Regions from separate parts of the Homo sapiens genome. Here region 2 is linked to region 1. The links come from fine-mapping of genetic effects on gene expression. Tissue or cell type: whole blood. Region 1 holds a variant in brackets; the other region holds the start of a gene. All regions are shown on one strand. Distances are between the middles of the regions. Region 1 has its middle 24 kb from the start of NOLC1. Region 2 holds the start of CUEDC2 (CUE domain containing 2).

Region 1 (4,385 bases):
CCCCAGTTGTGTATGTGTGTTTTTTTCTTTTCTTTTCTTTTCTTTTTTTTTTTTTTTTGAGATGGAATCTTGCTCTGTCGCCCAGGCTGGAGTGCAGTGGTGCCATCTCGGCTCACGGCAAGCTCCGCCTCCCGGGTTCACACCATTCTCCTGCCTCAGCCTCCCGAGTAGCTGGGACTACAGGCCCCCGCCACCACGCCCGGCTCATTTTTTGTACTTTCAGTAGAGACGAGGTTTCCCCATGTTAGCCAGGATGGTCTCGATCTCCTGACCTCGTGATCCGCTTGCTTCGGCCTCCCAAAGTGCTGGGATTACAGGTGTGAGCCAGCGCGCCCGGCCGTATGTGTGTTTTTAAAAAGGATTTTATTAGGGAAATTTTCACATACTTACCAAAGTAGGAAGAACAGTATAATTAAGCCCCATCTTCCCATCCAGCTCTTAACAATACACAGCCCATCTTATTTCATCTCTTATTAGCCCAACTCATTCCCCTTCCCACTTCCCATTGGATAATTCTGAAGCAAAAACAAGACTTTTTTTTTTTCTAAGCAGTCTCACTCTGTTCCCCACCCTGGAGTGCAGTGGTGCAATCTGGGGTCACTGCAACCCCAAGCCTGCAACCTCCAGCCAGGCTCAAATGATCCTCCCATCTCAGCCTCCTGAGTAGCTGGGACTACAGGTGCACACCACCATGCCCAGCTAATTTTTCATCCCATCAGAACAAGTAAACATGTGGGCCCCACGGCTCTTGTGGGTACTGTCTCCCTCATGGTGAACAAGCCTCCTGGTGTTTCGTCCAAGAAAAGGAAGGGTGTCAGCGGAACCACAGTCCTTTTTCATTTATAAACTGCCTCTTCATGTTGCCTGCTCAAGTTTCCACGTAGAATTGCTATCACTGTGGCTCTTTATTTTTCTTTTTCTTTTTTTTTTTTTTGAGACGGAGTCTTGCTCTGTTGCCCAGGCTGGAGTGCAGTGGCGCGATCTCGGCTCACTGCAAGCTCCGCTTCCCGGGTTCACGCTATTCTCCTGCCTCAGCCTCCCGAGTAGCTGGGACTACAGGCGCCCGCCACGGCGCCCGGCTAATTTTTTGTATTTTTACAAAATACAAAGTAGAAACGGGGTTTCACCATGTTAGCCAAGATGGTCTCGATCTCCTGACCTCGTGATCCACCCACCTGGGCCTCCCAAAGTGCTGGGATTACAGGCGTAAGCCTCCGCCCCCGGCCCACTGTGGCTCTTTCTAAAAATCCTTCTATTTAACTGGCTCACTGAAATTAGTCATAGGAAACTTGTGATTTGGTGAAGAAGCATTCCTTGTAATAACCAAATGATGGGACGGTTTGCATAGCAACAGTGTTACACTTATGGGGGCCGTCTCTAGAATCCAGGAAGTCTCTGGATCTGAAGGATGAACAGTTCTTCCTGCTCTGAATGAGAGTGGACTCTTCCCCTCACCTCCAACTGAAACCACGAACACCCAGAATCTTCTGGGATTCTGACTTAAGAGTCCTTGTTATAGAAGACCTTGTTGCTATGGAACATGAAACTGTGTGTGTCAGATGGAGAGATTCCCTTAACTTAAGAGCCTTAAATAGCCCTGAAAGTACACCGGGACAGTTTGCCATGTAATTAAAATTAGAAGTGAATATTTTTAGGTGCCCTTGAAGCTTTCTGGGGACTCAAAATTATCAAGAGTCAGGGACAGTCCGAAGGAAGAACGTCTGTAAAAGTGGGTTCCTGGAAGTACAGACAGATGTGGCTTTTTGTAGAACTTGGTGGGGAGCGGTGCCTCGTAAGAGCGGAATGGCCTGGCGTAGCCAGTGCTTCCCGGCAACACGCAGCTCTGCCAGCCTCCAGAATTCCCCCGTTCTGAGCTTGATGCCCTTAGCCTGTCCCCCACCTCCTTCTTCCCCTCCCCTCTAGCCCTCTCACAGGGGTGATTGCTACCACTCTTTTCTTGGGCCTAGGCAAGTTTTAGAGGAGTTCTCAACCATTGTCACGAAGCCTGTGTGCTCCCTGGGCTGGATGGCCTGGGCTTGCGTGTGGCCCGAGGGCTCTCCTGGGGTCTTTTTCCCAGTCACCGTCCAAGCCACAGTGCACTCATTGGATGTATGTTCTTAACATAGCTCACTGCTTCTCTTTCTACATTAAAAAAAATCATTATTGCATTTTGGAAAGCAGTGCTTATCAAAAGCAACTTTTTTTTTTTTTTTTTTTTGAGAAACGGAGTCTCTCTCAGACGCCCAGGCTGGAGTGCAGTGCCACGCCCGGCCCAAAAGCAACTTTTAAAACCTATTTTATTGTTCCTTTAAATGTTCTCTCCCGCTGAAACTGCCTTGGGGAGGCTAGCAGCTGCTCTTCCATTTCCCCACATCAGGGTATTCTCCACGTCACTGAGTGGAGATGACTCCAGGTATGTTTAAAGACTGGACAATTCACCTGTACTGTGTAGGAAATTACCTCCTTAATTACCTGGTAGAATTGTCAGCAGACATGTTCATCCGATGATAGTACTGCAGTTTTCTATAAATAATTTGCTGACTTTTATCTAACCTGCACTCATGTACAGATTATTAAAAGTTTTAAAATGTAACTGATCAGTATTGATCAATCATTATCTTGACTTTTTTTTACCGTGTATATTTCTTTTTTCTTTTTATTTTTTTGAGACGGAGTCTCGCCCTGT[T/C]GCCCTGGCTGGAGTGCAGTGGTGCAATCTCGGCTCACTGCAAGCTCTGCCTCCCGGGTTCACGCCATTCGCCTGCCTCAGCCTCCCGAGTGGCTGGGACTACAGGCGCCCACCACCACGCCCAGCTAATTTTTTGTATTTTTAGTAGAGACGGGGTTTCACCGTGTTAGCCAGGATGGTCTTGATCTCCTGACCTCGTGATCCGCCCACCTCGGCCTCCCGAAGTGCTAACAGGCGTAAGCCACTGAGCCCACCCCCTATAGTGTATATTTCTAATCATATTCTTTAAAGCCAAGAGAACTGGTTGAATGAATGTTTATTTTCCTGAAGGTATTTTTAGGATAAAGCTGCCTAATGGCCTGTAAACTTTGCATATATATGTAGTTTGATACATATTGTCACATTTGAAAATCTTGTGAGTTGTAACTGGTTTTATACAAAATATCGAATAGTGGAAATTGTATAATTACAATCATGTAATTAAACTCCCCCCCCAAAAAATACCAAAATTAGTCGGGCGTGGTGGCATATGCCTATAATCCAAGCTACTCGGGGGGGCTGAGGCAGGAGAACCGCCTGAACTTGGGAGGTGGAGGTTGCAGTGAGCCGAGATCTCACCACTGCATGCCAAGCTGGGCAACAAGAGTGAGACTCCATCTCAAAAAAATTAAAGTTAAGCCTTTAAGGAAAAAGGCTTTACTTTTCACACTTAAAAGAATTATCAGGCCGGGCGCAGTGGCAGGCGCCTGTAGTCCCAGCTACTCGGCAGGAGAATCACTTGAACCCAGGAGGCGGAGGTTGCAGTGAGCTGAGATTGCACCACTGCACTCCTGCCTGGCGACAGAATGAGACTCTGCCTCAAAAAAAAAAAAAGAATTATCAGTATAGTAATTAGTTGGTATCATTAAACATCCAGTGAGTATCACCATCCAGTCAGTAGAGATGGGATTTCACCATGTTGCCCAGCCTGGTCTCAAACTCCTGGGTCCAAGAGATCTGCCCACCTCTGCCTCCCAAAGTGCTGGGATTATAGGCATGAGCCACCACACCAGGACTTTAAAAAATTTTTTTCTTGAATTGAGTAGTGCTTTAGAATTATCCATTAAGCTTCATGTTTATGTTTGCTGTATTTCACACACACATACAAAGTGTTGTTGTTGTTTTAAAGAAGAATGCTGTGTTTCCTTGGGACAGGTGAGGTGAGAGGAGAAACGTAGAAGGAGAAAAGTAGAGAGATGGAAAAAAGAGGGCTCTGAGGAATACAAAACCTGCAAGACAAAAGGGAAAAGAGTGGCTGTGGGGGCCGTGGACCCTGAGAAGGTGTTTCCAGGTTCTCCACAGAGGGACCCCAGACCTTGCATCTGCAAGCCCACTTGAGCTCCAGGCTTCTGGAGAGGTCTCCAGAGAGCGGGACTAGAAAGGCAGCCCCAGGAGTGATGATGGTGAGCCTGCCCGGGCCAGAGCAACTCCAGGACAAAAAGCAAAGGGGCCTGGGAAGTTGGAGAAAGTTTCTTTTCATTTTCTCTTTTTCATTTGAGAAAGGCAGCAGAGAGCAGTGGAAAGGACCAAAGGGCCCCGTGTCTGAATTGTAGCACTAGTAGTTGTGTGATACTGGGTTATGATACTCCATTAAATTTTTTTTTTTTACTCTCCTCTAATTTCTTTTACCAGACTCCATTAATTTTTATCTCAGCTTCAT
Region 2 (4,385 bases), 260 kb after region 1:
AGTGCTGGGATTACAGGCATGAGCCACCTGTGTGGTGGTGACTGAAACTTGGCTGAAAGCCCAGGTTTTCTTTTTTTTTTTTTAATTTTATTTATTTATTTATTTATTTATTTATTTTACTTTTGAGACAGAGTTTCACTCTTGTTGCCCAGGCTAGAGTGCAATGGCGCGATCTTGGCTCACCGCAACCTCCACCTCCTGGGTTCAAGCGATTCTCCTGCCTCAGCCCTCCTGAGTAGCTGGGATTACAAGCATGTGCCACCATGCTCGGCTAATTTTGTATTTTTAGTAGAGACAGGGTTTCTCCATGTTGGTCAGGCTGGTCTCGAACTCCCGACCTCAGGTGATCTGCCCGCCTAGGCCTCCCAAAGTGCTGGGATTATAGGCGTGAGCCACCGTGCCCGGCCTGAGAGCCCAGTTTCTAGGGAAGAAGCTTCTCAGGGATGTGTCTCATGCTTCTGGGTTTTTAGCCAAGGCCTGGGGGCCAGGGAATTTTTAGGAAACTCTTCACTGTCCCCAAATAAAAAGACTTGCTCCCCTAAGCTTTTCTCTAGTTTGTATTCCAAGGGAACATCCTCCCTCCCTCCTCCTGTTTTTGGTCTACCCAAACTTCACCCAGGCTTCTAAGCTCTTTTACCCTTCCCCATCCCCGGTAGCCTTCCTAAGTACATCCTTCCTGCTCAGGGGCTCCTAATACTTCTCCCCGCATAGCCCCTGAGTTGGGGAAGATCTGGTCTGCCAGACTGGTTTCCTAAGTAGCACCTAAGCAGCCACCCTTCTCCAGGGTAAGAACATGATTTCCATGAGACATTTCAAATTCCAGATGTAGCCCACAGAACCCCATTGCTTCTTGGGGGCCGCAAATTAGAGATCATTGGTTGATGGTGTCTACCAAATGTGACTGTCATCCTGTCATGAGTCCTGCCTAAATGCCTCCGATGATGGTAATATTAGCATTTATTGCCTCTGCTTACGAGGCATTGTCCTAAGCACTTTTACATGTATTAACTTACCTAATCCTTACAATAACTCTAAAATGTAGATACTGTTATTCTCCCCATTTTATTTTATTTATTTTATTTATTTATGTATTTTTGAGACGGAGTCTCGCTCTGCCATCCAGGCTGGAGTGCAGTGGTGCGATCTCAGCTCACTGCAACCTCCACCTCCCTGGTTCAAGCAATTCCCCTGCCTCAGCCTCCTGAGTAGCTGGGATTACAGTCGCATGCCACCATGCCTGGCAAATTTATTTTGTATTTTTTAGTAGAGACGGGGTTTCACCATGTTGGCCAGACTGGTCTCGAACTCCTGACCTCAGGCAATCCACCCGCCTCGGTCTCCCAAAGTGCTGGGATTACAGGCATGAACCACCGCGCCCGGCCGTATTATCCACATTTTACCTGAAAGGAAATGAAGGCACTATGAGGTTAAGTAACTTGCCCAAGGTCACAAGGCAAGTTAATGGCAGATTTACACCCAGGCTGTCTGGATCCAGAACCCTCACTGTTAACCACCACACTACATCACCTCTCACGATGCAAATTGTGTGGCCCCATCCTATATTCTGAATCTCCTCTCCTGCCTGGCTGGCTATATTGTCTATTTCAGAATCTTTGCTCACACCACTCTCCCAGCCCAGAGCATCTGTCCCTCTGCCTCTCCAAATCTCATTCTGCAGGACTCCCTTTCTGCAGCCAACCCTAACTGCCCCACCTTCACTGCTCCCAGCTAGCCTGGGAGCTTCCCAAGGGCAGCACAGGCCTGGACCCTCCAGATGCTAGATAGAGACACTGTGGACAAATTTAAGTGAGAGTGGGGTAAGAAGTACTATGCTGCTCCCTTGGGGTGGGGAGGTGCTTAAAGTGGAGGGAGAGCAGGCCATGTGGGAGGAGGAATCCTGGGAGCTAGTGTGAAAGGAGTCCTAGCGAACTTCTCAGGGAGGCAGCAAGGGGTCTAGCATGGAAGGTCTTCACTGCTTCTCCCAGCCCCTGTGAAGCCCGGTTCCTGAGGCCCTGGACCCATAACGCAGGCCCCAGAGGATATCATTGTCCTCTGATACCCAAGTCAGACCTTAGAGGCACCAAGGGCATTGAGGGGAACAAGGGATCCCTGCATCCAAAGTCAGGCGGGAGCACAAACAGGGAGGGCGAGCACAGGAAGTGGGACCGCGATGATGGACGACCCCTGAAGCAGCAGCTCCCTAAACCCGCTAGCGGGACACCCGTAAGCGTCCAGAATAGTGGGCCCGAAGGCACAGGGATGCGGCTGTGGCCTTGGAGGACACATGACGAGGCAGGCCTGAGCAAACTGGATGTGCCTTGATACAGGCCACGGCGAGAATCAGAGATGGGGGTCCGACGGGCCCCGGGGGGGGTACCGTGGGGGAACACATCGGACGGGTACCCTGGGTCAGCGCTCTCCGCGACTCTCCTAGCCCTGGGCCGGGGGCAGGAGGGGAAATCACCTGCTCCGTCGGGCGCCGCCGGCGACTTGTCCCGCGCGGTGCAGCTCTCATCCCCCAGCCCCACCAACGAGATCAAAGGCGGGGCCCAGAGCGGTTCCCTTCCAGAGGCGCCGTGGCGGCCATGTTTGAGAAGGGCAAGTTGCCCACAACAGGGCGGAGCTCCTGCTCTAATTCTCTAACGTCCCAGGGCTATGGACGGGCTCCCTTGGCGGCCAGTTTTGTTGCGCGTAGGGAGGCGTTAGGCGTGAAGGTCTTGAGAGGGGGTGGAGTCGAAGTGGGTAGGACTGCATCCCCGTCTTGTTCCTTCTCATCCGTCAGAGACCCGAAACCTTTCTCTTTCTTTCTCTCTCTCTTTTTCTCGTCTCTCTCTCTCTCTCTCTCTCACTTTTTTTTCCTTTTCTTCTTCTTTTTTTTTTTTGGGAGGGAGCCTCGCACTGTCTCCCGGGCTGGAGTGCAGTGGCGCGATCTCGGCTCACTGCAACCTCCGCCTCCCGGGTTCAAGAGATTCTCCTGCCTCAGCCTCCCGAGTAGCTGGGATTACAGGCGCGCGCCACCACGCCCAGATAATTTATTGTATTTTTAGTAGAAACGGGGTTTCACCATGTTGGCCAGGCTGGTCTCAAACTCCTGACCTCGTGATTCGCCTGCCTCGGCCTCCCAAAGTGCTGGGATTACAGGCATGAGCCACCGCGCCTGGCCTCTTTTCTTTTCTTCTTTCTTTATTTTCCTTTCTTTCCCTCCCTCCCTTCCTTCCTTCTCTTTCTTTTTCTTCTTTTCTTGCTGTTACAGCCCCAGGCTGGAGTGCAGGTTCACGAGTGCGAACATGGCTCACTGCAGCCCCGACCTCCTGGGTTCAAGTGATCCTCCCATCTCAGCCTCTGGAGTAGCTGGAACCACAGGCGCGTGCCACCACGCCGAGCTAATTTTTTTTTTTTTTTTTTTTTTTGTAGAGACAGGGTTTTTGCCACGTGGCCCAGGCTGGTCTCTTAGGTACTGACTTCCCCACCCTGTCTGTACCTTTTGCATTCCCTTAACAGCAATGTCTCCCCTAGATTGGGGTGAGCTACAGGTCTGTGTCTCCGGAGGGTGGAGCCTGGGATTTTGGACGTGGTCTGGGAGAGGTGGAGTGGTAGCAGGTGCCAGGATGAGGATCCACCTGAGCCCTGTCATGGACAGCCTGTAGACCATGCCTACCCCCCGGGGCCTTCATCCCCCATGTTGGCAGGGCTGCTTGTCTAGGACAGGAGAGCTGAACTCCAGGGCCCAACAAGACTTCAACTTCCTCTTTTTGTTCCTGCTGCCACAGATTCCCGGTGCTGCCCTGTGGGGAAGCCCCACAGCCCTCCCCTCTTGGGAACCCTGAAATGGGTCACAAGGGGAAGAGTCCCCTTCAAGGATAAAATTTCCCATCCCCCATCAGCAGGGATGAGCCCTTTTTAGTGCTAGTTCCTTCGTGGGGTGCTGGGGACCCGGAAGCTGTCCCTGCCCTCAGGGAGCTCACAGTCCAAGAGAGAAGTCCCATCTTTCCTCTCTCCTAGGGACTAAGGCAGTGCCAAGATACTATGCTGCAGTGGCTCACACCTGTAATTCTAGCACTTTGCAAGGCTGAGGTGGGAGGATCGCTTGAGCCCAGGAATTTGAGACCAGCCTGGGCAACATGGCAAAACCTCGTCTCTACAAAAAATTTAAAAAATAAAAAATTATCTGGGCATGGTGACACACGCCAGTAGTCCCAGCTACTCCAGAGACTGAGGTGGGAGGATCATTTGAGCCCCAGAGGTCAAGGCTGCAGTAAGCCGTGATTGTGCTACTGCACTCCAGCCTGAGTGACAAAGCAAGACCCTGTCTCAAAAAAAAAAAAAAAAAAAAAAAAGAAGAAGAAAAGAAGGAGAAGGAAGAAGAAGAAACTATGGAGAAAACG

The links. PIP is the estimated chance that this variant, and not a neighbour inherited with it, causes the effect. A credible set is the group of variants that fine-mapping cannot tell apart.
Region 2: it holds the start of CUEDC2, and the variant in region 1 is the best candidate, but not a certain one, in a credible set for the expression of CUEDC2 in whole blood (INTERVAL, PIP 0.81).

The regions. Positions count from the first base shown.
Region 1 is chr10:102,174,181-102,178,565 of GRCh38, forward strand. No RefSeq gene overlaps it. Among named protein-coding and RNA genes, the nearest start is that of NOLC1, 24 kb to the left of the region's middle. The variant T/C (reference allele first, on the strand shown) is at 2,687.
Region 2 is chr10:102,430,062-102,434,446 of GRCh38, forward strand. It overlaps CUEDC2 (CUE domain containing 2), which reads right to left and starts at 2,513. Exons shown (of 9, transcript NM_024040.3): 1 at 2,465-2,513. RefSeq lists enhancers at 2,478-2,607, 2,778-2,947, 2,879-3,514, 3,515-4,148.